3 separate regions of the Homo sapiens genome follow, and all the other regions are linked to region 3. The links come from fine-mapping of genetic effects on gene expression. A gene starts in region 3. Each other region holds a variant in brackets. All regions are shown on one strand. Distances are from middle to middle.

Evidence for each region.
Region 1: its variant is fine-mapped to the expression of SIRPA in whole blood (TOPMed, PIP above 0.99).
Region 2: its variant is fine-mapped to the expression of SIRPA in whole blood (TOPMed, PIP above 0.99).

Annotation. Positions count from the first base shown.
Region 1 is chr20:1,805,210-1,815,593 of GRCh38, reverse strand. No RefSeq gene overlaps it. Among named protein-coding and RNA genes, the nearest start is that of SIRPA, 85 kb to the left of the region's middle. The variant A/G (reference allele first, on the strand shown) is at 4,249.
Region 2 is chr20:1,832,939-1,843,322 of GRCh38, reverse strand. It overlaps LOC105372501 (a long non-coding RNA gene), which reads right to left. Exons shown (of 4, transcript XR_001754475.2): 3 at 10,246-10,384; 4 at 6,782-8,463. Among named protein-coding and RNA genes, the nearest start is that of SIRPA, 57 kb to the left of the region's middle. The variant C/T (reference allele first, on the strand shown) is at 4,825.
Region 3 is chr20:1,892,142-1,901,270 of GRCh38, reverse strand. It overlaps SIRPA (signal regulatory protein alpha), which reads right to left and starts at 5,864. Exons shown (of 8, transcript NM_001040023.2): 1 at 5,745-5,864. The coding sequence starts at 5,823. It overlaps LOC102724545 (a long non-coding RNA gene), which reads left to right and starts at 7,021. Exons shown (of 4, transcript NR_186374.1): 1 at 7,021-7,152. RefSeq lists enhancers at 650-699, 509-1,078, 4,704-5,219 and silencers at 6,511-6,630, 6,641-6,900.

The DNA.
Region 1 (10,384 bases), 86 kb after region 3:
GATGTGGCATTAGAGCTAGACTGGAAGACTTAAGAAGATACTAGCTTGACAGAAATCCAGGGAAGTGAGTCCCAGGCAAAGGGGAAGAGCAGATTCAAAGGTCCTGAGGTGAGAGAGAGCTTGGCAGGTTCCCCAAGTATTCAGAGCATAGGACAGAGAGGAGATGATATCAGAGGGATAAGCAGGGGCTGTTTCCTATAGGGGTTTGGAGGTCAGGGTTAGGAATATGGAAGCCACTGGAAGGTTTTTAACAGGGGAGTGACATGATATAAATCCATATTCAAAAGATTACTAAGTGCTTTGAGTAGAAGAGACTACTGGGGGCAAGAGTAGAAACTGAAAGACCAGTGAGAGACCCCAGTGTTTCAGTGAGAAATGATGGTTGTTTGGATTTAGATGGTGGCAGTGGGTCCATCTGTTTGTCTACCGCTTTGTTCTTCCCTCCTTTCTTCCATTCTTCTATCTCTTCATCCATCCATTCATCCATCCACCCATCCATCCACCCACCCATCCATCCACCCACCCATCCATCCACCCACCAACCCATCCACCCATTCATCCACCCACCCATCCATCCATGCATGCATCCATCCATCCATCCATCCATCCATCCATCCATCCATCCACCCTCCCATCCACCCACCCACCCATCCATCCATCCATCCATCCACCCACCCACCCATCCATCCATCCATTAACTAAACACTCAGAGCCAGGGGCTGTGCTGGGTGTGTCTATGGGGAGTCAGGTACAATGCTGAGATAACAAGAATGAAATACACATGGTTCCCAGCCTAAGGGGCTTACAAAACAGCAGGGTACACAAAATTGCAATGTAATGTTATGAATGCTCCAGTTAAGGAATGCATGAAGCACCGAGAGAGCTCATGGGAGGTAATTCCCTATGCTCTGTCCTGGAGGAGATACTGATGTTTGAGTTGGGCCTTTCGAAGGACACGGGAGTTGGACAGGCAGCAGAAGAGTGTTCCTGGCAGGGGCACACAGCTTGAGTAAAAAGCAAGGAGGCAGCATGAGTGAGCATGGCCGGTTCTGGAAATGTACAGATGTCTAGGTTGGTTGAATCAACAGATGCGAGTGGGGACGCTGTGGGAGAGGAGTTTGGGTCAACTTGGGAAGACGTGGAGCAGCATATGCCCATGACTGGGCCTGCCCCTTCCGCTCAGCTCTGCCTGCCCCTATCAGAGCTGAATAATTGAATTAAGTACCAGCTCTTAAACAAGATGCAGCTGTTTAGCAGATGTTGCTTCCACCCCAGATGGAGGTGCATCTTGGCGACGGGCACAACATTTCGAAGGCGTCTAATTTGTGAGGCTGTGGAGAGGAAAGAACTTCAAGATGCTGGCATTATTATTTAATAACCATCATTAATTACACACTCCCTCCCTCCAGCACCACTGCATGTCAAACATTCCTGCCGGATTGGGACTGGGGGCACAGAGGCGGGCTGGCAGGTGGGCTTGGGGGTTGGACTTGCTGGTTCTGATTCAGAAAAACAAAAGAAGAAAAGGGAATAAAGTCATCAATCCACAAAGCCTTCAAGAACTTTTATAATAATGGAAAATGACTTCTCTTGCATTTTTCATAAAATGAGTACAAATAATAACTGCTATTGATTGAACCCCCACTCAGAGCCAGGGGCTGTGCTGGGTGTGTCTTAGACATTGCCTCCAATTCCCTAATCCTCCCAACAGCCACGCATGGCCCTACCTCAGGGCCTTTGCCCTTGATGTCTCCTCCGACTGGGAAGGTTCTTCCTTCAGACACCCACATGGCTAACTCCCCTACATCTTTCAAAGCTCCACTTAAATGTCAGCTCCCCAGAGAGGCCTTCCCTGACCACCACTCCCTGAAATAATGTCCTCCACATTCTTGACCTCCTTCCCTTGCTTTTTCTTTCATCACCTGATATACGTATATTTGTTAATTGTCTATTTCTCCCTTTTAGATTTTAAGCTCCCAAGGGCAAGGATTTTTGTTTCATTCACTGTGGCCTCCCCAGCACTCAAAACAATGCTTGACACAGGACAGAGTTCTTTTTTCTTTTTTGAGATGGAGTCTGGCTCACTTGCCCAGGCTGAAGTGCAGTGGCACGATCTTGGCTCACTATAACCTCTGTCTCCTGGGTTCAAGCGATTCTCCTGTCACAGCCTCTGGAATAGCTGGGATTACAAGTGCACGCCACCATGTCCAGCTATTTTTTTTTCTTTTTTGGGGGGGTATTTTTAGTAGAGATGTGATTTCATCATATTGGCCGGGCTGGTATCCAACTCCTGACCTCAGTGACCCGCCTGCATCGGCCTCCTGAAGTGCTGGGATTACAGGCATGAGCCACCGTGCCTGGCCCAGAGTTCTATAAATATTTGTTCAATGGGTGGGTGATTCATCAGTGGGTCTCATTAAAAAATGTGCAGAAGAGTGTTAGGGAGATAAAATCTCTTTCCCAGGCATTACACAGCCAGCAAAGAGCAAGCTGAGATTTGAATTCAGCTCTGTCTAATTCTAAAGCTCTGCTCTTTTCATTAAGGACTTTGTTTTTCTTCTCCAAAGAACTTATTACCACTTACATATTATTATTATTATTTTTGAGACGAAGTCTTGCTCTGTTGCCCAGGCTGGAGTGCAGTGGCATGATCTCGGCTCACTGCAACCTCCGCCTCCCAGGTTCAAGTGATTATCATGCCTCAGCCTCCCGAGTAGCTGGGATTACAGGCATGTGCCACCACGCCCTTGTATTTTTAGTAGAGATGGGGTTTCACCATGTTGGTTAGGCTGGTCTCGAACTCCTGACCTCAGGTGATCCAACACCCCCCCCCCCACCCCTCGGCCTCCCGAAGTGTCAGGATTACAGGCGTGAGCCACCACGCCCAGCCCACTTACTTATTATTTATCTATTCATGTGTTTAATGTCTGTCCTTCCCACTACAATGGCAGCTCCACTGAGGGCAGAGTTCATCTGTTCTGTTCACAGCTGAATCCCCAGCCCCAAAACAGTACCTGGCACCCAGGAAATGCTTTATAAATATACGCTGAATGAAGGAAAGAAGGTCTGGGATATGGGAGGCTGGAGGTGTTCACACCCTTGCTGGGTCTCTGACTGGGTGAGACGGTGGGGAGCTCCAAGATGTTTTCCACTTCCCCAACCCCTCCCACATACAGACTTCTTATTCACTCTTGGAAGCAATGCTGCAAGGGAAGTATTATCCAAACCATTTTACAGATGGGGAAATTGAGGCTCAATCAGAGAAATGATTTGCCTTTCTCAAGGTCACCCAGCTAGTAAGTGTCAGAGCTGGGATTTAAACCTAGGTCTCCAGAGTTCACTTGTCATGCAAAAGGGACCCTTAATGCTTGCTAGCTCTGCCCACCCAAAGGCAATAGCTAGAAGGTCCAGAAGGTCCAGTCACAATCTATGCATTTCCCCATCAAGGTCAGGGGTGTCAGGACCAATGTGAAACTCATGCTTAATTCACAACTCCCAGCTTTGTCCATTTAAATGAAAACTTTCATGTTATTTTAACCAAAATCCCCTGTCGACTTCAATGAAAGCTTTGAATCCATGAGGAAGGTCAGAAAGGGTTTTTTGGAGGTAGCACAGGCGCCCAGTGGAAATCATATTAGCATATTCATTATCATCAGGGCCCTTTGAATGTGTTTTTGAGCTGTTCCCTTCAAGTGACTGGAGACAATGGCTCCTTTCTGTTCACAAATTCCTGGGCTTGAAGTGGGCTGTGGCCAGCTCCTGTGTGCTTCTCTGCACTTTCCAAATGGTCACAGGGAACCCGTGTCGCATAAGGTAACAGGGAGGATGTCATCCACCAGGAGTGCTGGTGGTGAATGAGGCTCTTTGTCTGGGTTTGGAAGAAATATCTCCTCAAGTCACTTAGGCAGCTATGGTGGACCCCAAAGATGGGCTCAGGTAACAAAATATGTTGTTAAACTGTCTTCTAAGGAGGCTGGACCCTATTAACAGGAGATCCCTGAGTGTGGCAGAGTCAGGGCTGGGTCTGGGGTAACAAGGTAGTTGCTCAACTCTAGAAAGTGCCAGGATCACCCAGGGAGCATTTAGCAACCATCAGTGCCCAGCACCACCTCACCAGGCCATCTGGACCCAAATCTTGGCGAGTAGGGGAGTAAACAGGCATCAAAGGTTTGTAAGTGTCCCCAGATGCAGACAGGCAGCTAGTAAGCAGAGCAGAATGGCTCTCTCCTCGAATCAGAGGGGAGGAGA[A/G]AAGAGAAGTTGTGGGTGGGGTATGGTGGGGAGGGAGGGCTACAGGAAATCCTCTGGGCATGTGTCGGGAAAAGAGAACTTCAGGGGAAAAACACTCTTTTTTTTTTTTCTCTCTCTAAAGAAAATTCTCAAACTACAGGAAGTGGAGAGAACAGTACAGTGACCCTACACGCTTGTTACCAGCCTCACCTGTCACCCACATGGAGTCCTTCCCATTTGTGGGGTTTCCAGGTGTGTGCCTGTCCCAGGGAGGCCACGTGCCCCTGCTGCCCCAGAACCTTCCTTCTGTAAAGCCCACGCTGCTCTCCAGTGATTCTGACAGTAGATCCTTGGTGGGAACACAGAGCTCCAGCTCTCAGCCCGGGACAAGCTTTGACAGGAGAGCCAGCTACTGGGACACAAGTCCTTTTGTGTGAAGGGAAAAAAAAAAATAGTTCTAATTAAAAAGAAATCCCCACCTATTTGGACTAATTCCTCCATGACTAGCTTCTCCTTAGTTCTCCTGTTTTCGGACAGGGCCTGAGGCCGATTTCCCCTGAATAGGATCAAAGAAGTGAGGGGACTAGCCTAGGGCCTGGAACACCCAGAGGGTGGCTGCTGGGGGCGTGAGAACTGGGTAGGGGTGCCTCCAGGAAGTCCTCTTATGTGTGCTTCTTTGTTCATTTGACAAGGATTTGCTGAGCACCTACTATGCATCAGACGCTGTGTTCTAGGCAAGGGGGATACACCTGATGGAAGAAGGTCCTTCCCTAGACGTAGCTAACATCCCAGTGTGGGAGATGACACGAAACAGTAAGTAAAATCTACCGCGTGTCAATAGATGGTGTTAAATGCTACAGAGAAAGTTAAAGCAGGGAAGGAGACGGGGGAGGGACTGCTGGAGTGGGTGGTAATTTTTAATGAGGTACCCAGGGAAGGCATCTCTGCAGACCCACACAAGTGAGATAGGGAGCCGTGCTGGAGGGGCACCCCAGGCAGAGGGCACAGCAGATGCAAAGGCCCATGGGTGGGAGTTCTCCTTCCAGGAGTGGTGATCACCTTGAGTGGCTGGAATAGAGGAAGGGCTGGGGAGAGCTCTGGGAGGTGAGGTCAGGGAGGCAGGTCTGTAGGGGAAACTGAGGAGGTCAGACTGTGTGACTTAGGAGGCCTTTGTTTTTCCTCTGAGTGAGAAGGGCAGTGATGGGTGGGTTTTGAGCAAGAGGACTACAAGCTCCAGCCTAGGTTTTAACAGGACATCTCTGGCTGCTGAGTTCAGAACAAGTTGTAGAAGGCAGGCCAGAGGCAAGAGGAGGCTGTTGTGTCACCCCAGGTGACAGACGATAGTGGGTCAGACTAGGGTGATCATGGAGGGCACGGATACGTTTAGAAGGAAGAGCCAATAGAATTTGTGGACTGCAAGAATGTTGGAATATGACTCAGGACAGCCAGGGCTGACTCCAAGGTATTTGACCTAAGCAGCTCGAATTATAGAGTTGGCATTTCCTGATATGAAAATCCTGCAGAAGGGGTGGGTTTTGGAGGCACAATCAGGAGTTCCATTTTGGACAGGTGAGATTTGACATGCCTGTGTAACACGGACGGAGCTGTGGAGTTAGTAGCTGGGCATGAGGCTGGAGTGCAGGGGAGACGCCTGGCCCGGAGTCACCCCAGATGGTGAGTGAGATCACTTAGGATATGATTGTAGATGGTGAGACATGGACTAAGGTTCTGATATAACAGGAACTGGGCCAGGCCATGTCTTCTGGGCCTCGTCACCTGGGATTGATGGAGGGATGTCCTGATCCTACCTCCCTCTCCATTCACCACTTCCAAATCTTAGCATTTACCCTAAAGATAAACGGGAGAGCTGAGCTAGCCTAATTTTGGTTGAAAAGAGCAGAGCCTCTCTCCTAACTTGAGCCATGGGGGTTGTTGTAAAGCTACATGCAGGGACTGGAAGGCAGGAATTTTGACCACACATCACAGAATACAACTTAGCCACTGGAACATCATTCAGGACCCAGTGCTCTGGGACTGAGTCAGTTCATAGTCATCTCAGGAGCAGACGTTTGTCAAATTTCTCCTCCCCCTTGTCTGTCTTGGAAGTTTGGCTTACTCATTGCCCCTGTGCCTTCACATTTGTTTGAATTATGTCATCTTTTAGGGTCTTTCAGCTTGTAGGCATCATCCCAACTCTTTGTGGTCCAATTCAAACTGGCAGCCACCATCACTGCTGATGAGTTTAGTTAATTGGGCTCAGCCCTGCTGGGTGGAGCTTCTGTCCCAGGCTGTATCACAGGCTGCTCAGCCTATATTTTGGCAGTCTTTGGGTCAGGTGGCTCTTCCTGCCCCCACCAGGTGTTGTGGAAGTGTGGAGATATTGGGTAAAGAATTCAAGGTCAATAATAGTAATGTCAACAGTAATAGTAACAGCATGGCTATTGATTAAGGAAGACTGCATCAGACAGACTGGGTTCCGGTTCAAGCCCAGCTTCTACCACTTACTATGACCTTGGGCAGCTCGTTCAGCCTAACTGCATCCCCATCTCTACATCTACAAGTGGGAAATAATAATGTTAACTACATCTTAGCATTGTGGTGAGGAGTATATAAACTAATCAAGAAGACTCTTATGGCATATAATTTAATCAGGGCTCAAAAAACACCAGTCACTCTTACCATGACTATTGGTTGAACAGTTCTTCTGTGCTAAATGAGGTGCTTTAAAGGCGCACATTCTCATTTGATTCCTTATAAAATCCCAATGAGACAGGTTCTTTTTTCAGCCCCAACTTATAGCTGTGAAACTGGAGGCAGAAGTGATATGACTTATCCAAAGGTCCTTCAGCTAGTACGAGATGAAGCTGGGACACTCAAACACAGGTTTATCTGGTTTCAGAACCGGTGGTCTCACTGTGTCCCCCCAGCGGGGCATATAGAATATGTAAATGCTCACCCTGGGCCACTTCCTCTGCAAGACTGTGGGCAGGAGCCCCCACAAGAAGGTGCAGGGCACTCCCTGATCCTCCACAACCCCACTCCCTACCCCAGATCTTTCTGCCTTCCGAGGAGATAATGCCTAGTCTTCTAAATACTACTCAGATCCAGTGGGATTGTGCCCCTCGCCTGCTCTGCCCTGCAAAGGCCATTCCTATTCCTTGTCCTGTGTGGTCCTCAACATTTCAATTACTTAGCAAAGCAGGGATTATTTCCTCCCATTTGACAGATGCAGAAACTGAAATTCACCGAAAGGATGGAACCGTATTCTCCCCAGTCCTTACAAGGAGCATTTGGAGAAAGGCAAAACTGAACTTGAGGGGAACAGGGAGTCACTGCATGTCCTCGAACAGGGGTGAGGCAAAGGCAAGAAAGACCGGGGTCAGAACAGAGAAGCTTGGAGCTGGAGCAGAAAGGTGCCTCATTTAACTGGGCCTGTGCCCTGCTTAGCAATGTAGCCAGTTCTGCAAAGTCTCCTCCAGACTTGGGGTTCAGTCAGGGTGTAAAGGAAATAGAATGATATGAATTCCTGGTGCCAGTTTAATTTCATGAAATATGCCAGCATGGCCCTGGGGCTTGATGCAGTCTTCCCTACTGAAGGATCACAGCGGGAAGGGAGCATCTGCAGGCTCTTGGCTCACATTTGTCACCTGTAACCTTCACACACCAGGCACAAGTCTTGCCCATGCTCCGGGGCTGTCATCCATAAACAGTCCCTGAGCTTCACATGTGTGGGTTTCACAGCACAGCTCTGGAATCTGACAGTCGAGGGTTTGAATCTCAGCCTTGCACCTACTCTCTGTGTGGCCCGGAGCAAGTCATTTAACCTCTCTGGGTTTCTGCTTCCTCGTCTGTGATCCTCACTCAGTGGGATACTGCGGAGATCAAGTGAGATATGTTCATTTAGTGCTTGGCACAGTGCCTGGTGTGTGGCAAACCCCATTACTGTTTCACACAACACAAAATAATTCGGACACTTGCTGTTGGCATAGGAATGATTAAAAGATATACGGTATAGGAACATAACAAATAATAAAAAAGGAAAGATTATTTTGATGACAGAGTGGAAGATGTGTTAGGAAGGAGAAGACTGGTATAGAAACATCTCTGCTAGGAACAGTGTTTGGCTGTTGGTAGCAAAAACAACAACAACAACAACAAAACACCTAACCATGGAATAGATTTTAGTTGGTCCTCAATACCCATGCTCCCCTTCTTCCTTAGTCAACAAAATCCCTAATTTTCATCAGAATACATGGCTTGCCTCCTGCAATAAAGATTACAGTTTCCAGTTTCCCTTCCATATCCTAGGTATGCCCATGTAAGTTCTGGCCAATGGAAAATGTTGTGTGTGACTTCCAGAAAATGTCTTAAAAGGGAAGGTAAACACCTTCCTCCACCAGTCCTCCACACTTTCTGGAATTTGAGACATGATGACTACATCTCAAGCAGCTCGGACCATGTGATAATTTAAAGATGGCTGTGGATTCTTTGATCCTCCTCCCTTTGAGAGGAGTCAATTTCCCCTGTACTTAAATCTGGGCTGACCTGTGACTTCTTTGACCAATAGAGTATGGTGGAAATGATGTCACGCCCACTCCAGGCCTAACCTCTAGGAGGACTGGCAGTTTCTGCTATGGCCTCTGGGAGCCATGAGCTGCCATGAAAAAGGTCAAACTACTCTGCTGGAGACACCCACCTGGAGAAGCCCTGGGATTCCATGGAGAGGCAGACGGACCCAGCTGAGCTCAGTGTTCCAGCCATCCCCACGAAAGCACCAGGAACCTGAGTGAAACCATCTCGATCCTCCAGCATAGCACAATCAGCAGCTGAAGATCACTGAGTGACTCTAGTCGGCGCTCCATGGATCACTGAAGGATCACCCAGCTGAGCCCTGCGCAAATTTCTGACTCACAAAACTGTAGACGATACAATGGTTGTTGTTTGGGGGCAGTTTGTTATGCTGTAGCAATAAATAGCCAGAAGAGACCAAGAGGCAGAAGTTGTTTGCTGAAAATAATGCAAAAATTATACCAGCCCTTGCCCAGCTACCTCCGGATTTCTTGCTACATGAAAAAAAAAAAAAAAATCCCTATTTGTTTAAGCCTCGTTGACACCTTGGGCTATTGCTCAGTCCTCAGTTTTCCATTTGTTAAATGGAGCATTAGCTCCTGTCTTACTACTTCCCAAAGGTGCCTGAGAGGGTAGAGTAAGAATGAAGAAGAGAAGGCCTTTTTCATGTAATATAAACAGTGCTTATGTTCCCAAAGATCAGCGAGTGACATGCTCAAACAGTTATAATATATTTAATGTGGTCATAATGGGAGTGAACTTGTCATGAACCAATTGCAATGGATTTTGGAATCAGACACGTTAGGGCTTGAGGCTCTCAGCTCTGCTAGACAAACTTCTAACTTGACAAATAGGCCAGTCATTAAATCTCTCCAAGCCTTAGTTCCCTCATCAATAAAGCACAGACGATGTGATTTCCCTCCGTTGAGTCTGTGTGAGGATTAAATTAAATGAGATTCATCCATCTATTTGATAAATATTGAATATCTCCTAGGGTCTAGGCCAAACACACTCTTGATATTGGTGGAGGCTGGTGTCCACTCACCCTTAAATCTAAATATTTAAAAATTATAAATCAGACCAATACCTTCTCTTAAATGTTCTATCCTTCTCCTCAGTAAGTATAACTTCTCAGCAGCCTGAAAGGCCAGGATTGATTTGGATTTCTTAGATACTCGCACTGAAATGTGGCGGTGCTGGGGAGAGCCAGCCCCATTCCCTGGTCGCTCATTTCCCAGCCTATAAACTGCCACCTTCCCTTCTCATCCCCAGCTCCATCCTGTACCGTGCACACCTCACCTGCATGTGTGTAGACATCCCAGGCTGCAGGTCCAATCTCCATCCACACCCTATCCTCTGCAGTGCCCCTTGGCTACACCCTGGGCTTAGTGTTCTGCCTCCAGACAATAGACCAGGAAGAGGCCTGGCAGCAGGCTTGGGACTTTTAGGTAGGGAGCTCAGGAATCCTAGGAATCTGTAGTATTCTAGACAAGGAGCAAAGACTTGGATGGGTATATCCCCTTGGCACTGCAGACTCTCTAGCCTGTGGGGATGTACGCAGCTGGAGGCTGGCCAGGGCAGAGCCCCG
Region 2 (10,384 bases), 59 kb after region 3:
CACCACTGTATGTTGGTGGACATGTTTCCAGGCCTTTCCCATATATTTACATCTGCACAGATATAACATGTGTGTCATAGGTATGCATCATACATCAATAAGATCATTCTCCATTTATTTGATAACTATTCATTGAGCACCTACTATGTGCCAGGCATTGTTGTGAGGCATGAAAAAGTGAGATTCCTACCCTCCAGAGCTGACACTCTAACAGAGTAGCCAGCAGACAAAGCTAAAGTATTCTTCCAGGTAGTGATATTAATACATGTTATGAAAGACATACATTTAGGTAAAGGGATAGAGGAGGATAGGAGTGGGGTTGTGGGGGGGTGCTTTCAGTCCAGGGGGTCAAGGAAATGTCTCCTCTGAGGAGACATTTGACTTGAGCTTGGAGGATGGGGAGGAACAAGCCCTGCAGATATCCAGGACAGATTCTTGGTAGAGAGGACATTGGGTGCCAAGGCCCCAAGCATGGCATGAAATTAGTGGGTTGGAGAACGAGTGAACAAGCCAGCAGGGCTGGAGCAAAGTGAGCGAGGGGAGGGGCAGGAGATGGGTCAGGGAGGCGCAGTGCAGAACATATGGGGTGGCATGGGGAATGCAGGTTGGGGCATACAACCAGAGCCTCAGGAAGATGGAGCAGAGGAGAGGACTGAGCTAGGATTGGTTTCATTGGGGTTTTTTGGTGCAATTTTTTTTATTGTGGTAGAATATACACAGCATAAAACTGGCCATTTTAACTATTTTTAAGTGTACAGCTCAGTGGCATTAAGCACATTCATATCACTGTGCAATCGTTACCATCATCCGCATGCAGAGCTGTTTTATCTTTCAAAACCGAAACTGCACCCATTCAACACGAATTCCCCCGTCCCCCAGCCCCATTCTACTTTGCGTTGCTATGGATTTGACTACTCAAGATGAATCATATAAGTGGAATCATGCAGTATTTATCTTTTTGTGTCTGGCTTATTTCCCTTAGCATAATATCCTTGAGTTTCATCCATGCTGTACCGTGTGACAAAATTTCTTTCCTTTTTAAGGCTGAATAATATTCCATTATATGTATATACCACACTTTGCTTATCCATTTATTCATCTGCCAGTGGACACTTGGGTTGCGTCCTCCTTTCGGCTATTGTGAATGATGCTGCTATGAAGATGGGTGTGCGGATACTTATTTGAGACGCTGCTTTCAGTTCTTTTGGGTATAGAGCCAGATGTGGAATTGCTGGGTCCCATGGGAATTCTTTGACCTGGTATTTTATGTAACAGAATCCAGGGGCTACCAGGGGAGAACAGCCACCACGGAAGGGCAGAAGCTGGGAGGCCAGCCAGGCAGCAGTTGTTGCAAGGCGCCTTGTCTTACGTAACAACCCATCCTGCAGATCCCTCCAGGGTGGCACAGGGAGTTCTGCCTGTCTCTTTAATGATTCAGGGCACTTTCACTTTCATCCTTTATTTGGGTTCATCCCAGCTCTGGAAGTCAGGTGGGAAAAGGCCTATGATCCCCTTGGAGAGACAGGGACAAAGGGGCTCAGGGAGGGAGAGTGTCTCAGCCAATGTCACTGGGCTCTAGGACGTCCTCTAGGACGTCCTTCAACCCTGGGCCTGCCTTGGGACTGACTCTGGGGGTAGATGACTCCCCTGTGAGTCTCCCTTCTATTCCCTACTCCTGCCAGGCAAGGCTGGGCAGCTGGAGAGAGCTCACAGCCAGAGCCTCTCTGCCAAGACATTAATGAGCCTGAAATCCAACTCAGGGTATCCCTGGGACCTGGAGAGTGAGAAGGAGGCAGCACCCTAATTAGCCACCATTCTTCTCACCTGCAGCTTAGGTAGCCCACCCCGACAGCACTGCCTGAGGCTGGGGGTGTCTCCCAGCAGGCTTAGGAGCCCTGAAACTGGCTGCTATTGGCTGTGTGTCCTCTTTCTGTGCCTCAGGCCCAGGAATGCATCCTGAGGAGGACAGTGAGAATTCCATCAGAGCCACAGGAAGTCACACCCCACCCGGGCTGGGGTCTGACCTGGGTTCAGGCAAATCTCAGGGCCCTGCCTCTCCTGGGATCAGTTCCTCCCTTTTTAAACTTTCACTTTTTGGCTGATGAAGCTTTGTGGGATGAAAGGAGGAATGGGAGATGCTGCTTCCTTGGGTCGGGGGAGCAGGATGGAGAAGGGGCCAGGCCCTGTCTCGCTGGTTTCCCTCCCTCCTATAGGCATCCAGGTCCCAGTCTCTTCTGCCCATTCAGCCCCTTCCTCCTTCCCTTCCTTCCCTGCATGATCTGTCCCGCCCCCACCAGCTTAGTCAGCTCAGCCACAGGGACCTCCTTGCTTTCTTCAAACAAACCAGGAGTGGGCCTGCCTCCGGGCCTTTGCACTCACTGTTTCCTCTGCCTGGAACTCTCTGTCCCAGATTCTATCTCATGCCTCCTTTACATCTTCACTAAAATGTGGCCTTTTCAATGAGACTTTTCCCGACTCTCCTGTTTAAAACTACAAATTGCCCCACTCCTCCCTGGCAGATCTCCACACCCTTCCCTGCTTTGATTTTTTCCACAGCACTTGTCGTCACTTACCACTGGCATATATTATATTCAGTTACCATTCTCTTTCCTCTAGATTGCATGCCCTGTGAAGGCAGGAATTTCTCTCTTGTTGGCTTCTGCATCCCCAATGGCTGGCACAGAATAGGAGCTCAGTAAAGATGTGCTGAATGCACAATTTCAAGGACCATCCATGGCCATTGCCATCACCCTGGTCCAGCCTGCAGCCACCCTTCCCCTGGATGCTGTGACAGCCCCCAATGCTAGGCTCCCGATGTCCTGTTTTGCCCCATCCAGGCAGTTTCCTGCCAGCAGCCAAAGTGAGCTACTTAAAATGCGATTTTGACCAGATGATCCCTGATAGAAACACTTTTGTGGGTCCCATTTTATGGAGAATGAAACCCACAGTACATCACTCAGTCTTCAAGTCCCTGCCTGCTCCGGCCTCCAGTTACTCTCAAACTCATCCCCTGTCTCCTCCCTCCATTGCAGCCACACTGATCTCCTTGGGGCTTCTTGGCCACATGGAGCCCTGCTCTGACCTCAGCGCCTTTGCACCTCCTGTTCCCGCTAACTGGGACACTCTTCTCTCTACCCTTTCTGGTCAGTTCCATCACATTCCTTCTGTCTCAGGCGAATGTCACCTCCTCAGAGAAGTGTTCCCTGACTACCCTAACCGGTTCCTCCACCGAGTCACTCTTAGCTGTTGCTTTGTTCCTATATTTATTGTCTTCCGAGTCACTCTTAGCTGTTGCTTTGTTCCTGTATTTATTGTCTTCCGAGTCACTCTTAGCTGTTGCTTTGTTCCTATATTTATTGTCTTCCGAGTCACTCTTAGCTGTTGCTTTGTTCCTATATTTATTGTCTTCCGAGTCACTCTTAGCTGTTGCTTTGTTCCTATATTTATTGTCTTCCGAGTCACTCTTCGCTGTTGCTTTGTTCCTGTATTTACTATCTTCCGAGTCACTCTTAGCTGTTGCTTTGTTCCTATATTTATTGTCTTCCGAGTCACTCTTCGCTGTTGCTTTGTTCCTGTATTTACTGTCTTCCGAGTCACTCTTCGCTGTTGCTTTGTTCCTGTATTTACTGTCTTCCGAGTCACTCTTAGCTGTTGCTTTGTTCCTATATTTATTGTCTTCCGAGTCACTCTTAGCTGTTGCTTTGTTCCTGTATTTATTGTCTTCCGAAGGAGACTGTGAGCTTCCTGAGGGTAGGTCCTTGTTAGCTTCCTGTTCTCAGCTCGGAGGAGGCACATGGCACATAGTAGATGCTCAATAATATTGTCTGGCTGGATGAATGAAGGTGTCTGAGCACACGCAGCCATTTTCCTCGTTATTCCTCCCTGTCCTCACAAGCTAGGATTGTGATGCCCTTTTGAAAGATGATGCGATTGGGTCTCAGAGAGTTTGGGCAAGCTGCCTGGACCACACAGGCAGTGAGCAGTGTGTGTCTGTACGTCCTTTGTGTGTCTATGTGTATGTCTGGATGTATCTCTGGGTGTCCAAGTGTCCTCTGTGTGTGTCTTTGGATGTCTGTGTGTCTGTGAGTCTCTGGGCACCCAGGTATTCCTATGGATTTGTGTATGTCTGTGTGTTTGCAAGTACCTTTCTTTGCTATGCACATGTGGCTGCCATGTGCATATCTCTGTTTCTCTGTGTGAGTCTGTATCTGTATATCATTGTGAGTCCCTTCATGTCAGCTGTCCTAGTGTCTCTGTGTGCCCCTAAGCATGTGTGTCCACGGTCCAGCTCTGTCAGCTCTCCCAGCCCCCACTCGGTGGTCCATGTCATTCCCTGCTGCCCCAGGCTCCTCCAGGGCTCTAACAGCCTGTCATCTTCCAGCTGTGGGGTCCCTGAGTTCTTTGGGCACCTGGGGAGCTGGAGCAGAGGAGAGAGGCAGACAGTCAGGCAGGCACTGTGCATCCCTGGGGCCCACAGACCCCAACCCATGGAAACCCTCGCTAGCCCCAGGATTGGCTCCTGACTTAAAATTGCCAATCCCTGATTGAGCTGCCAGGAGCCCGCACTGGGCTGGTTCCCATGGCAACGTGGAAGCTGCCAGGCCTCCCGCTCATAAAACAGGTCATAAAGCAGGGGGATGGGAGGAGGATCAGGGGCTGCCCAGCTGAGGGGGGGCTGGCTGCCTGGGAGCTGCTGGGGCCACTTCCCTTGGAGACCTGGCCATGCACCTGTTGGCAGCCAGGCCAGGTTCTGCTCTGCCCCTCACACTGAGCAGCCTCTTTGTGAATAGGAGTCATCATGGCCTCTAGTTCTGCCTCTAGGTA[C/T]GATGTTGCATGGATCCAGGAATGCTTTGGGTGAAAGGGCCCAGCAGGACTGAGGCCTGGGAGTGAGCTCTGTAACCCTCTGTCTCCCCATCAGTAAAACGGAGAGCGAAGGGAAAGCAGCATGGTGAGTGGAAAGAACCAGGCTTGAGAGTGCACTGGGTTCAAACCCAGCTCCACCTGCAAGCTGTGGGACCCTGGGCAAATGGCTTCAGTCTCTGAGCCAAACTTGTTCACCTCTCAAATGGAGACAATAATGGCGTAGAATATTTGTGAAAATTAAATCAAAGTTTATAAAAACTTCTGATGGTGCCTGGTCCAGAGACCAGCTGTGGTTGTTAGAAATAATAGCAGCTATTATAATAATAGTGATAATTGTGTGCCAAGCACTTGTCTAAACACTTTACACGCAGCAGTTTATTTTATCCTCATAGGTGATAATTATTCCCATTTCACAGATGAGGATGCTAAGGCACAAGAGGTTAAGTGACTCACTCAAATCACAGAAACCAGAGGGAGAACTCCGGTTTAGACATGGAGTTGGGGTGCTTTCAGCCACAACCCAGTACTGCCTCTCTCTTCCCTCCCTGCAGAATCAGTGAGGCTAGGGGAGGAGTCAGCATGAGCCCCAGCCAGCCTCCTCAGCTTCAGGGCCTCCCCACTGCAGCCACGAAGAGGAGAGGGCTTGGCGAGCGTGGGCTTGGTCCTCCAGAAGGACTTGGGGAGGCAAGTTGCAGGGATCACAAAACAACCTCCTTCAATACCCTTTTCCCATTGCTCAGAGGGAGAAATTGAGGCCCAGAGAGGGCTAGTGACTTGCACAAAGTCATATAGCGAGATAGTAGCTGCAAGGATTCAAACCCAAGTCCCTTTCTTTGGAGCCAGTTATACTCCCAATAAGCCCTATGGCTGCCCAAGTACCCCAGGCCACTGGCAAAATTGAGAAGAAAGCAAAGCAATAGGGGCAGCAGTAATTCCTGTGTGTTGTGGATTTAGCAGGTATTGGGTATCACGCTGCAACCCTTCACGTGCACCTTGTTTAGTCCTCGCTGCAGTCCTATAAGGTTAAGGCACATGATACACATTATCAGCATCATCCCCATTTTAGAGATGAGAAAATTGAGGATCAGAGAGGTTATGTGATTTCCTTCAGGTCAATTCAAGAGACTTGAACCCAGACCTGCTGATCCCAGAGCGGCATACAAGGACCCAGCCCTCAATCCTGGGGTCTTTCTGTGGTGTAACTCTTGGGGCGTGCCCATGGGGGCTGCCTCGTGCTGACCACAGCAAGGCCCAAGGAATGAGCATTTCTCCGTCCATCCATCTGTCTACCTACCTATCCGTCTGTTCACTCAATAAATATTTACCCAGGGCTTTCTCCATGCCAGGCAATATTCAGGCATTGGGAGGCATACAGCAGTGAACAAAGCAGGCAGTGCCTGGCTTCGTGGCCCTCATACCCTCGTGGGGAGAGGCAGACTATAAACAGAGAAACAACAAAGATGTGTGTCAGGTGGTGGTGAGGGCTATGGAGAAAAACAAAGCCAGAGGAGGGGGCAGCGCAGGATGGCGGGGTCGGAGAAGGCTTCTCTGAGGAGGTGACATTTGAGCGGTGATCTGAAGGAGGTGAGGGCTTGGGCCGTGTGGGGATCACTAGAGAGGGGTTTCTGGCAGAGGAAATAGCGGGAGCAAAGGCCCTGAGGCGGGAGCGTGCCTGGCATGTTGGAGGAACAGAGAACAGGTCAGTGCAGCTGGAGACGGCAAGCAAGCGGCAGGGCGTTGGGGAGGTGGAGAGGTCAGTGGGAATCAGACCAAGGGCGGCCCTGTCAGGTTTTCTTCTGAGTGAGATGGAAGCCATTGGAGGTTCTGAGCAGAAGCGTGGAATCATCTGATTGAGTTTTTAAGAGCATCTTCTGGCTGCTGGAGTGAGGATGTACTACAGGGCTCAAAGGAAGAGGGAGCGGGGGTTAGAAAGGCAAGGTAGTATGTGGGTGTCAGATGGCAGAGGCTAGGGCCACGCAGAGTGAAGGAGGTGGAGAGGGAGGCCAAGATCTGAATATATTCTAAAGGCTAAGCCACAGGATTAGGGTCTGAGAACCCTCTAGGATGGCTCCAGGTTTTTGGCTTAAACCAGAATGAAACTGTCATTTATGCAGGTGGGGAGGACTGCTGGAAAAGCAGTGCGGGCCCGGGCTTTGCACATCTCAGTTCGTTTGTGCCTTATATTCCTCAAGCATCAGAATCACCGGAGACACTTGTTGAAGTCCAGATTTCTGGGATCCTCCACCAGAGCTTCCCATTCAATAGAGCTGGGTGGGGCTTGAGAATGTGGATTTCTAATCAGTTTCCAGGTGATGGCGATGCTGCCAGTCACAGGACCTCACCTTGAGACCCACAGATTGTTGCAGCTGGGGAAGTGGAGGCTCACAGCTGGAAGGCGACTGGTAATAAAGTCATAAATTGAGCCAAAGCCTCTTCAGTCCTTGGCCAGCTTCTGGACCCTGATGGAGAGAGAAGGGAGCCCTCAGACATTTGTCCCCAGAGAATGAGAAGTGGGTGTGGCTGGAGCTCCTAGGGACCCTCTGGTTTCTGCTTCTGTTTCCATGGAGGCCATAAAAAAGGGTAGTGGCCGAGCGTGCATGTGACATGCATTCTCTCCAGCTTCTCCACCCCCGGGTGTAATCCTGTCTGGCTTCCCTGAGCCCTGTGCACAGGAGGGATTCTGGAGAAGCTTGCTGCAAGACCCAGCGGTGTCCTCATTCCTTTGTTTTACAACCGTTTGCCGTGTTCGCATGCCGCAGTTGTCAGGAGTGCTATCCACCATCTGGGTCCATTTCTGGGTCTCCTCATGTGGGGTGCGTGGAGAGGCTGTACTTTCCAGCCTTCTTGAAGTTAGGCACGTCCTTGGCACTTGATTTCTGCCAAGATCTGTGAGCAGAAGTGAGGTGTGTCTCTTTCTGATGGGAGCCTCAAGAGCTGGTGAGCAATTTTTTGTCTGCATCCCCTGCCAGGGAGACTGGCGGGTTCTTCAAGGGAGGGCTCGCCAGCCTGGGCCCCTGACTGTGGACGTTATGGAGGAGAAGCCTTGCCAACTGGAGATGGACAGGGAACCGGAGTAAGAAGCAAACCTGTGTTTTTTTAAGCCAAGGGTTGGCAAATTTTCTTGGCCAGAGAATGAATATTTTAGGCTTGTCACAGCTACTCAACTCTGCTGTTGGAGCAAGAAAGCAGGCACAGACAGTACGTAAATGGGTGGTTGTGGCTGTGTCTCGATGAAACTTTGTTTACAAGATGAGTGACCAGCTTGCAGGCTATAGTTTGCCAACCTGTTTGAAGTCTTGAGAATTGGGAGTTGTTTGTTCCTGCAGCATGAACTAGCCGTAGTGACAACTGTACCTTCCATAGTGACCTTGCTGGCATAGACAACAGAACCTACTATGCCTCTGCAAGCACAAGGCAGTAGATAAGGAAAGTGTACTTGACTTTGGCTGGAGATCTTGTGGTTCTCCTCTCAGATCCTCTTCCCATCCTTCTCCTTGCTCTCTGTCCTGAGTGGTTGGCCTGCAGGGATTATGTCAATCAAGGGAACCCTTGTTGTCTGGCTTTCCATTGGGTCTGGCCCATTGGGAGCACTGGTGGGATCTGGGAAGAGAGAGGATAGTGAGGCTGGTGTATTTATTCCCCAGTTCTCTGCCTTCAAGATCCCCTCAAGCTGCCTGTGTCCTTCAACTGAAGGCCACATCTCCTATTGGGGGCTCTCTCTTATCTCCTGGTGACAGCCAACTTCTCCCTTCTCCCTCCTCTCACCCTTTGAGCCCATAATAGTTCGACTTGCACCAGCTCTGAGGTACTACCTTATCCTTTGTGGTTTGCTATACTCTTTTCTCATCCCTCCTAAGTGATCCCTTTATTAAAATCAAATCAAATGACCTACCTGGAGGGTGCCATCTGCTCCTGCTGAGACCCTGACTGCTGCTGCTTTGAGGCACACATGTCTGGGCTTGAATTCTGATTGAGTCACTGCCTTAGTTAAATCATGTCACCTCTGAGACCCCTGGGTTTTCTCTTCTGCAGACTGAAGCAAAACTAACCTCTAGGAAAGGAGGAGGGGTTTCCTAAACTATGGTATCTGTACAATGTCAGGAGGCATCTCAATTAGTGTTAGGAAAGAAGGAAGGAATCCTCATGACAGCTTGGAGAGGGTGGGGCCTGAGTGCCACTTGCCACTTGGGAAATGAGGCTAAGGCTGCGTGGGATGGAGTGTTCCGGGGCTCTGAATGGGCCTGAACCCTGGACAGACATCAGTGCATACACCTCTGGTTCAGTCCCTTCTGGGGATATTGCTGGAAAAGGGTCCCTCAGGACAGAAAACGAGGCATCAGCTAGGCCCAGGTTCAAATGTGGGCTTTGCACTCCTTGCTGTGTGACCTTGGGCAAGTGACACTGCCTCTCTGTGCTTCATCTAAAAATAGATAACACAAATACCTACCACAAATGAGAAACAGAACATAAGGCAGGCATCCTGACTCTCTTTTTGACTGCTGTATGCATGGTATCTAAAGCAGTACCTGGTGTATAATAGGTGCTTACTGCTTGTTACATGAATGAATGAGTGAACAAATGCATTTGTGTAGAGCACTTAGCACAGTGCTCACCTGCCTGAATTCAGCTTCTGATGCTACCAGTTTCCAGCTCTGTGGCCTTGGGTGCCTCATTTAAATTTCTTTATGTGGAAGATGGGATTCAAAAATACCTACTTTGTGGGATTGCTAAGGACTACATGAATCTTCACATGTGCCAGGCAGAACCAGCACTCACTCATGTTAACCATCATTGGTCACACTTTTGCTGGGGGTCAGGCTTTTTAAGCTGTTTAAGCTCTTTTGACCATGCATACAGCAGTCAAAAAGAGATTCCGGATGCCTGCCTTATGTTCTAATCCTCACTCGAGGTAAGTATTTTTATCCCTATTTTTAGATGAAGCACAGAGAGGCGGTGTCACTTGCCCAAGGTCACACAGCAAGCAGTGCAAAGCCCACATTTGAACCTGGGTGCCTGACCAGTTGGCTTACTGGAATTACCCCTGGGCTGGGGACAGAAACCTGGGCAACTTGCCACATGATATTGGATGACTGTTGCCCTCCAAGAGCCTCAGTGTTCCTATCTGTGAAGTGGGAGGTGGTGGCTGAAGTGGGAGCCTTCTGAGTCCCCTTGTAGCTTGCACCTGCACATGGGTCACTTTCGGACCAGGCTGTTGCAGGGGATGCCCTATGCACAGCCCCAGAGATGGGACATCTGGATGTGAATGGACTCAGGGCAAGTTCAGGGTCAGAGCCCTCCTCACATGCCTGGGCCAGTGGCAAGCATGTGCCAACACTACTACTACACTACATCACAAACACTACTACTAATGGTATTGCTGACCTTATTATCATCATCATCATGAGGTGGGAGCTGGGAGGAAGCCCTCGTTGGGGTAGGGGTCCCAGCTTCTGGGCCCTCCGCCCTGTTCCCGATTCCTCTATCCTTGGCCAGTGGTGCAGCGGGGAGGTGGCAGCCCATT
Region 3 (9,129 bases):
TGGACCCAGGAGGCAGAGGCTGCAGTGAGCCGAGGTCGCACCACTGCACTCCAGCCTGGGCGACAGAGCAAGACTCCGTCTCAAAAAAAAAAAAAAAAAAAAAAAAAGAAAGAAAGAAAGGAAGAAAAAACAAAAACAAAAATGAGAGGAGCACTAAGGGAGCAGGGTGCCAGCACAACTGGGCCTCAGTTTCCCTACCTGTCAAGCAAGCCTCAGTGACGGCTAAGGAATGGCACAACAGTTAACCACATAGGCTCTGTGATTAGGCCGACAGTGGTTATCCACATCTGGCGCTTACGGTGTGGCCTTGGGCAAGCTGCTTCACCATTCAGAGCCTCAGTTTCCTCACAGATCCAACGGGTCCGAAGATAACGACGTGCATCGCCAGGTGGCTGTGAGTACCACCAGGGTCACACACACCAAGTGCTGAGCCCAGGAAGCAGAGAACCCAGATGGTTCCTATTAGTATTACTTTAGTGTTTTCCCGGGGAATTCGGGATCCTGTCAGATTTCTGGCTGAAACAGTGGAAAGTTCCAGCACAGCCCAGTTTTTAAAAGCCTTGGCCTGGACCACAGGAGGCTTGGCGTTCCAGCCGGGCCTTGCCATGGATCTCCCGCGTGGGCCCGGCCAGTTTTTTTCTCTCTGTTCTTCTGGCCGCACCATAAGGCACTGGATGAAAGCACAGAGGGCTCTCTCAGGCCCCCTACTGCTTTGCAGGTCCGGGAATCCACAACTGCAGACCTGTGGATCCAGATAGAGACACCTAGAGGCAGGCTGTGCCCACAGCACTCAGTCCCTAGTAACAGGCAATTAAATCACTCTAGCCTGGGTTTCTACTCAACTTGTCCATCCCCCAACAGCATAAAAGCTACAAGGACAGCTGGGTGGTGCGGTGGCTCAGCCTGTAATCCCAGCACTTTGGGAGGTGGATCACCTGGGGTCAGGAGTTCGAGACCAGCCTGACCAACACGGAGAAACCTTGTCTCTACTAAAAATACAAAATCAGCCAGGCATGGTGGCGCATCCCTGTAATCCCAGCTACTCGGGAGGCTGAGGCAGGAGAATCGCTTGAACCCAGGAGGCGGAGGTTGCGTTGAGCCGAGATCACGCCATTGCACTCCAGCCTGGGCAACAAGAGTGAAACTCCATCTCAAAAAAAAAAAAAAGAAAAAAAAAAAGCTACAAGGAAAATATCAAGCTGAAGGACATTTGTTCACTGAACAGCCTTTGCTGTTTTTTAAGTACCCCCTATGTGTAAGCAACTGTGTTAGATGTTTTATGAAAATCCGTCCCAATTGTTAAAAAAGAGGAATCAAACCAGAATAAAGCCATGCTAATTACAACACTGGTTAATATGTATTGAGTGCTTACTACATACAAGGCATGGCTTCCAGCATTATACACGCATTAATTAACTTAATCCTTGCAATAGAGTGGTTAATACCATTCCTCTTTTACAGATGAGCAAAATGAGACACAGATTCCTGCAAATTGTCCAAGTCAGTAGCAGGGCTCAGATCAACACCCAGGGGTCTTAGCACCATCTTAGCGCTAGGCCAGGGTGTGTGTCTGCGTGGAGAGGCTCCTCTGACCTCTCCCCAGGAGGCACATTAAATTGAACCTCGGAGGATGAGTAGGATTCAGACACAGGAAGACAAGGAGGTACAGGGAGGGCATTTCTGATGGCAGGAACAGCACGGGCCAAGGCACAGAGCTGAGAGTTCAGCTGAGGGCATGGATCTGTAGAAAACCGTTTACCAAACGGAGAGAGGCCACATGCTAACGGGCATACTACAAATCAAATGCCTCTCGTTCATAAGTTCAGGGAACACTGGAGTAAATGTGACCCAGCTCGGGATTCTACATTGCAGGGCTTCTCAGGGTCTTTGGGGTGCTCGTGTGGCTGAGTAGCCAGCAAAGCTCTGGTCTGCAGGGAGGAAGCCTGGTTATCCTGCAGCATCTCAACAGGTCAGCTTGTTGGAAAACATGTGGCTGGAAATCAGGCCTGGCAGGGAGGAAGCCCAGGCCTCACGGCAGCTTTGTGTTTTTTTGTTTTTTTTTTTTAAAGAAAACTTGGACCCACTCAACAGTTTTGAGCTGGGGAGTGACATGATCTGAGTTGTGTTGACAGGCCAGAAATCTGAGCACATTTAAAAAGAGAGAGAGAGGGGGGAAACCTTCCGTCAGTCCAAGACTACAAATAAGAAAATAACCTGTCGCACGGAGCCATTGGAAGCAGCAAGCGAGCGCGTGTGGGATCCGTACAACACTTTTAGACTCCCTTCCTCTCGCACACCCCCTCTCCATCTGTCGCAAAGGGCACCAGGAAGATGCAGGGAGGAATATTCCAGCTCTGGGGGCTCCAGAGCTCAGCAGCCCAGATGGGGGGCTCTCACAGGAGCCACATCACCTCTCATGTGTTGTTACTGGTGAGGACCAAGGGGCTGTCAGTATTTCCACCCTCAGCAGGCTTTCAGAGAAATGCCTGTGACTTCATCAAAACCTTCTGCCCAGAGAAAGAACTCTTCTACAGTCCTCCACCCAAGGCCAGAAAGGGGCCTCTCTCACTCCCTCTCCAGCTTGGACTAAATCATCCTGATTAAGTCATTGAGCTTCTTCCCTAGAAGCCACCCAGCAGGAAGGCCAGCATCCAAAATCCTGGCTCCTCTCTATCACTTATAAGTTAGTTCCCCAGTTTGGGACTCGATTTTCTGCATCTGCAGAATGGGGAGAAGAGCCAATCCATGTCTTGCGGGTGAGACGACGCAGGAGCAGCATCCGGCCTGGAACGCCATTAACTATCTAATGAATGTTGGTTTTCCTCCCTTCTCTCAACACATGGTTCACACCAGCACTGCATAGGTGCTGCATGACTGCAAGTACAGACGTGAATTACCGTGAGTTTCCGAGGGGTTGGTAAAGGCCAGAAAGTACTCAGAGAAAACTATGGCTTTAAAGGAACTTCCAACAGCCTGATGTGTTGAGCCAAAGCACTCCCGCCCCGTTTTCTCTTCTTACGAAAGAGGAAGTGAGATTAACTTTACCATTTAGGAAAGTACAGAGGAGCCCCCAGAGTGCCACCCTCTACCAAACGGTGAGAGGTTCACTGGGGGGCCCCGCTGCTCCCCAGAGCCTGAACTGCAACTTGGCTTGGCCTCCTCCAGGCCAGAGAGAAGAAATGAATGGGAGTTTATCTGAGGTCGGCCTGGGGGGTGACTCAGAGGTCTCAAGGCCTACCTGGGGCCAAGCAGGCATCCTGCGGGTTCAGCGTCAGGCCCTGCTGACACAAAATCAGGTGCCAGGTGTCCCCAGGCCTCAGTCCCTTGCCCTTCTCCCAGCCTCAGAATCTCCCTCAGTGCAGTTGTTTTAGGAAACAGGCCTCACATTGGGTCCAAAAACATAGGTTGGTGACTTCACTGGGATCTTTTTAGAATTTCCCTTTGGCAGCATTTGTGCTAAAAGCAATCTTTAGAAACTTCTTCTCTTGCCTCCCCCACCCAGGATAATTCACATGATTGGCCCCACCCCCCCAAAACAGTGATCATGTGAAGACACAGGAATCATGTGACACCTCCCAGGCTGACAGTTCTGCCTGAGACACTAGTAGTCATTCAATCCAAAGCCGCCTTCCTAAACCTGACATTTTAGTTTCTCACTCGAACAAATCCATTTTCTTAGAAAATTGGACAACTGCCTCCTTGTACCTTCCTACCCTCATATCCTGTCTCTCTACTTCTTTGTTGTAAATTCCATGTCTGGAGCAATAGGGGGAGGGGCCTGAGGCCCCATCCTTCAGCCAAACCAGGTGACTTCCCTGCCCAGGCCCATGGTGTGACCAGGACCCCGAAGAACAGATACTGAAGGATAATGGGAGACTTGAGCTATGATGGTCGCACCTCATCCCTTCCCCACCACCCTCGACCAAGAAATTCATTCTTACCTCCTAAGATTTATTTATTTCAAAGCTAATCTTGGCCCCTCTGCTGCTCCCACTTTTTCAGGCTATTGATGCTGAATGGATTGGAACGGAAGTTTTATGGCCCAATCTTTACCATCTTATAGACTGTTTTTATAGGCAAAAGGGGGAGATGTGCTCACAAGAAAGGTGTTGGTGTTCCCAGCCGGTGCCCCAGGAAAGGCAGGCTGCCCATCGGAGCACTTGCTAATCAGCGTCACTGCTCGTTTGCCAGGGACTGAACCACAGCCTCCTGGTCGGAGAAGGGTCTGGAATAGACATTTAGAAATTAACTCGGGCCCAATTCCCTGCTTCAGGAAAATTAAGCACTTGTGAGTGACACTTGTGCATTTCCAGGCCAGGAAGGATGGCAGGGCAGGAACTCGGACTTTTGCAGGGTACAAATGGCCAGCTCAGGCAGGAAGGAGCAGATAGGAGATGCCACTCACTGGAGAGACGTGAACTGTATCAGTGCTCCCTTCAGCCCAGCAAGGACGCAACTATAACTGAAAAGAACTGGGGGTGGAGGGTGGGGTGGGGTGGGGGGATGCCTATGTGAATTCCTGGGTTTCAGGGGAAACTGCAGGGCAGAGAGAAGCAGCTGTCTACCCCCCATACTTCTCCTTCCACCCACTCTTTGCTAGTTCTCCCTTTCTCCCTGCTATCAGATGGTTACCATCTCTAGTCAAACGCAAAAGGGGGTGTTGGACACTGAGCTCATCTTTACCTCCCTCCTCAAGGGTGGGAGGTACAGAGAGACCCCACTGCCTACAACACAGTTTCAAGACGACAAAAAACAAGATCCCCATTTTTCTCTCCCTCCCAACTCCCTTAATGCCATTTCTCTGCTCCCCCCGCCCCCCACCCGGTGCCCTCCCAGGAGACCCATGGTTTTGCAAAACCCATTTAAGAAGCAAGACTCCTGAATGGTGACCTCACCCTTTGGTGAACATGCACAGTAGCCTTCAGAGCCCGCCTGCCGGCGACAGCCAGGTGTTTGATGTAGGCCAACAGAAAGACATGGTCAGAGCCACAGGTAACATCCCCGCGGAGCACCTGAACTGCAGGGAGCTGCCTGGAAGCTCGGGGAAGGCAGGAGGAAGGGGGAGCTGGGAGCGCCTCAAGGAGCAAGACCACCAGGGAGAGGCTTTGGCAACCACAGGGACAATCCACCGTGTTTTTACATAAGGATCTGTTGCTCGCAGCAGCTCGCTCTGGGGTTACCGCGGCCTCCCGGCTCCCTCTCTCCCAGGCACACACTAACACCGGTTTACTCTGCGCACCAGAGGGAGGGCTCACTCTTCCCTAATTGCAACAGCTTGTCTCTGTTCCATTCCAGGCAGCATCGGGAGGACCTCTGCCCTCACCTCCTCCCCTCACACCCTGAAGTCAAACATGTGGAAAGTCGTATGTCCATGGGGACAGATTCTGGGGAAGCCGGACGGCCCTGCTCTGAAAGCCACTGTCAGTCAGCCTTCCCCATTGGACCGGGCAGGGGCTGAGTGAAGCAACTCGGCTCTTTTGTCTCAGTGCCCAGCACAGTGCACAGAGTCAGAGTCCACAGAGACAAACTCTCATAGAAGAGACTTGGGTTCTACCCTTGGCTGTGTGACCTTGGGCATGTCGCTGGCCCTCTCTGGGCCTCAGTTTCTGCATCTATAACCCTGGTTACAGGCGTCTCTCCCCCTATTACTGCTCGGCATTAGCCGAAGGGGTCCCAGTGCCAGTCTGAGAGGCCTGAGCCCGCAGTTTGGGGAGTGCAGCGGTGGGGAGCGGGGGGGTGCTTACCTGACCAGGCGCAGGACGCGGCGAGCAGCAGGCAGAGCAGCGGCCCGAGGCGGCCGGGGGCCGGGCCGGCGGGCTCCATGGGCCGCGGCTGCGGAGCGAGGAGGGAGAGCGGCCGTGAGTGCGCGCTCGGGCGGGAGCAGGCTGGAGCGGGGAAATGACTAAGGCTCCCCCCCTTCCCCCCTCCCGGCTGGGCCTCCCCCCGACTCCGGAACGGGCGCCTGGAGCGGCCGCCGCCGCCGCCGCGGTTTTTGGAGACCCCCCCTCCCCGCCCCCCAGGAGAAATGGAGAGACGGAGACTGGGAGAGACCCCAAGCGCGCGAGAAATAAAGCCAGGGGCGGCCAGAGAGAGGCGGCAGGAGAGAGAAACAGACCCAAGGGAGCCAGGCAGAGAGCCAGAGACACGGAGAGGCGAGAGGGGGAGAAAGAGGGGGAGAGCGAGGAGCGAGGAGCGAGGCGGCGCGCAGACCGACAGACCGCGCGGGAGAGAGGACCGCGCGAGCAGGGGCGAGGGGCAGCACGGCCGAGCCCGGCCGCGCGGAGCCGCCCCCGCCGCTGCCCACCTGCCCCGCCCGGGCTCCACACGGCGCGGGCGGCTGGGCTCGCTCCCGGCCCGCAGTCCCGGCCGCTGCCCCCGCCCTCCCGGCAGCCCGACCCCCTCCCTCCTTCCCTTTCCCCTCCTCCCGTCTTCCCGCCGCCCGGGGAGGCTTCGGGGCTCCGGCCCCGCCGGCACCTTCTCTGCGAGCGAGCGCCCGCCTGCGCGCCCCGGGGGAGGGAGCGAGGGCTGCGAGCTGCGCGCCCGGCCGGGGAGGGCAGCGTCCTCCCCCGCGCCGGCGCCCGGGCCCCGGCTGCTGTCCCGGGAAGGCGGCCCCGCGAGCCGCCGCGGCCCGCTGGGGCTCGGGACTAGACGAGCCTCCGGCTCCGACAGCGTGCCCGTTCAGAAGCCCGCGCGGCTGGTCCCCAGCCCCGACCGGTCCCGCTCTGCCCCTCCCCGTCCCTGCCGGGCCCGGACCTGCGCCGCCCGCGAGGGCTGGAAGGCACTGGAAGCGCCGCCGGGGCTGCCCAGAGGCCGGGTCCCCGCTCCACTTTGCGCAAACTTGTTTTTCTAAGGTCAGCGCTGCGAGCTGGCTACATCGTCCTCTTAAGGTGGACCGGGGAAGTTGCGGCCGACCTCCCCTCGCCTCCGGACTCCGGCCGCGCGGCTGCTCCCCGCTTCCCACTGGCGAGAGGCTGGAGGCGGCGAAGGAGTCGGGGCGCGGGGGCGCGGGGGGCGGGGGGGCGTCTGCCTTTTAACCCTCCCCAGGAGGTCGTGCCTCTGAGCCCCAAAGCTGAAGGCCCCTCTTGGGGGTGGGTGCGGGCCGGAGGGGCCCGATCCTTTCAGAGCCGGGCCGAGGTGAAGGAAAAGAAGGAAGTAAGTGAACGCAGGGGGAAGGGGAGAGGAAGAAGAGATGATGGTACAAAAATAGCGTGTGTGTAGGAAGGACTTCGGTGCCGCCTGGAAAAGAGGCGCGGGGAGGAGAGGGAGCGAGAAGGGGGCTGTGGCGCGCAACCAGAGGGGAAGGGTCGGGGCCTTCCCAGGGAGGTGGAGGCCCCCTGGCCAGGTGTCTCGGTGGTGGAGGGCGGACTGGGCGGGTGGGAGGCCCAGGCCGGGGCGTGTGTGGGAGAGCGGGGCCCTGAAGGCCTGGGTTCCGGGAGAAGGACAAGCCCTGAGGAAGATGAGGGGAAGGGGAGCCGGGGCCAGAGGCCTGGAGTTGGAGAGGACAGAACCCCGGTTTTCCCGGAGGGAACGCCGTTCCTGTAGTAGCCAGGTCAGTGATGGGGAGTGCCAGTGTCGTGGTCACCTGGCAGAAGGCTCCGCACTGTGGGAGGAACACAAGTTCAAGACCCCGCTGCTAATGGGAGAGAATTTTGGTTCACACAGTGGCGGTTAAGAGGACAGGAATGACACAAGGTGAGAGAAGGCCCAACCCTGTAAATGGACAGAAAGTTGAGGCCCGGAGAGGGAATAGGTTTGCTTAAGGCCACACAGCAAAGCTTGGGGTAGAAACAAGATTTGAATTCCTGATTCCCAGGTTAAAGACCTGTGCAAAGTAACACCACTGCCTCCCCTCCTGCCCCGAGCCTCCTGGTGAAGGCATGGCCCTGCTGTTGTGCAGGGGGGCAGGGAAGGTGCCACACTTGAGAACATGGGCTGAACTCCGTGGGTTCAAATCCCCCGGCTACTGTTATGAGCTGGGTGGACTGGAAAGTGCCTTACCTCTTCTGTGCCTCAGCTTCTTCATCTGAGACGAGGCCAGCGTGAGTCTCAATTGTGAGGATTTGATGAGTTAATATTTGTAAGACATGTTAAAAAGAGCCTAGCACATACCAAGTGCAACATAAGCATTTGATAAATAAGTGAAGTGTTTGACAACAGTCCTTGAGAACCCACAGGGTTCTGGGCAGCATTTGAAGTGCAAGGGAATTTTCATTTCTCTGGGTGTGGGAGAGCACGAGGTCCCTGTCCATGAGGAATTTATATTCTACTAGGGGAGACAGGTAAGTGGACAAGTAGAAATAATTAATGAAGAACGGAAGATTGAACTTAGAGAAGGAGAGGGGTGAGCGTATTTAGATAAGGGGGCCAGTAAGACCTCCCTGAGACATGGGTTGCTGAATCACAAGTAGGGTCAGCAAGGCGAAGATTTGGGGAGAAAGGTGTTCCAGGAAGAGGGCCCAGCACAAGGAGGGGAAGGCCCCAGGTGGCTAGGCCGGAGGAGAGAAAGCGCAGTATGCAGGACTGGGGAGGGTGGGATGGTCTCCAAGACCTGGGTAAAGAGCCTGCGTTTATTCTGCAGTTGGGAGACCCCTAGAGGGTTTTCAGCACGGGAGGGCCATGTCTGATTTATGTGTCTAAAAGGCCAGTCTGCAAGCGGAGGGTGGACTGGAGAGAGAGGAGCGTGGAATTGGGCACCAATGAGAAAGATTGTTCTGGGGTTATCCTGGTATCTGAGGTGGGTGCAGGGAAGGTCTCCAACTCTTCAGGCCACATCGGGTCTAGACCATGAAGGTAACCAGGGAGGCTCCTGGGAAAATCTGTCACCAGACTCCATCTGGGGTGGGAGTGGAGATGGGGGCTGCTGATGAAGTCAGAGAAGAGGCAGCCTCCTGCCCTGGACTTCCAGAAGGCTCTGCTGTTCACTGTTCCTCAAGACACATACACACTCACAAACCTGCTGGGGGATTAGGAAACTGGAGATTAGGGAAGGATAATAATTGAACCACCTGCTATTTATATATAGCACCTTTGGCAAAGGCGCTCAGCAGGGCTTCCCTCACCTCTCCCCCTGGAGGGGGCCCTGACCCTTGTTCTCTGTCCACATAAAAATCATCCTTGGCCAACCTCAAG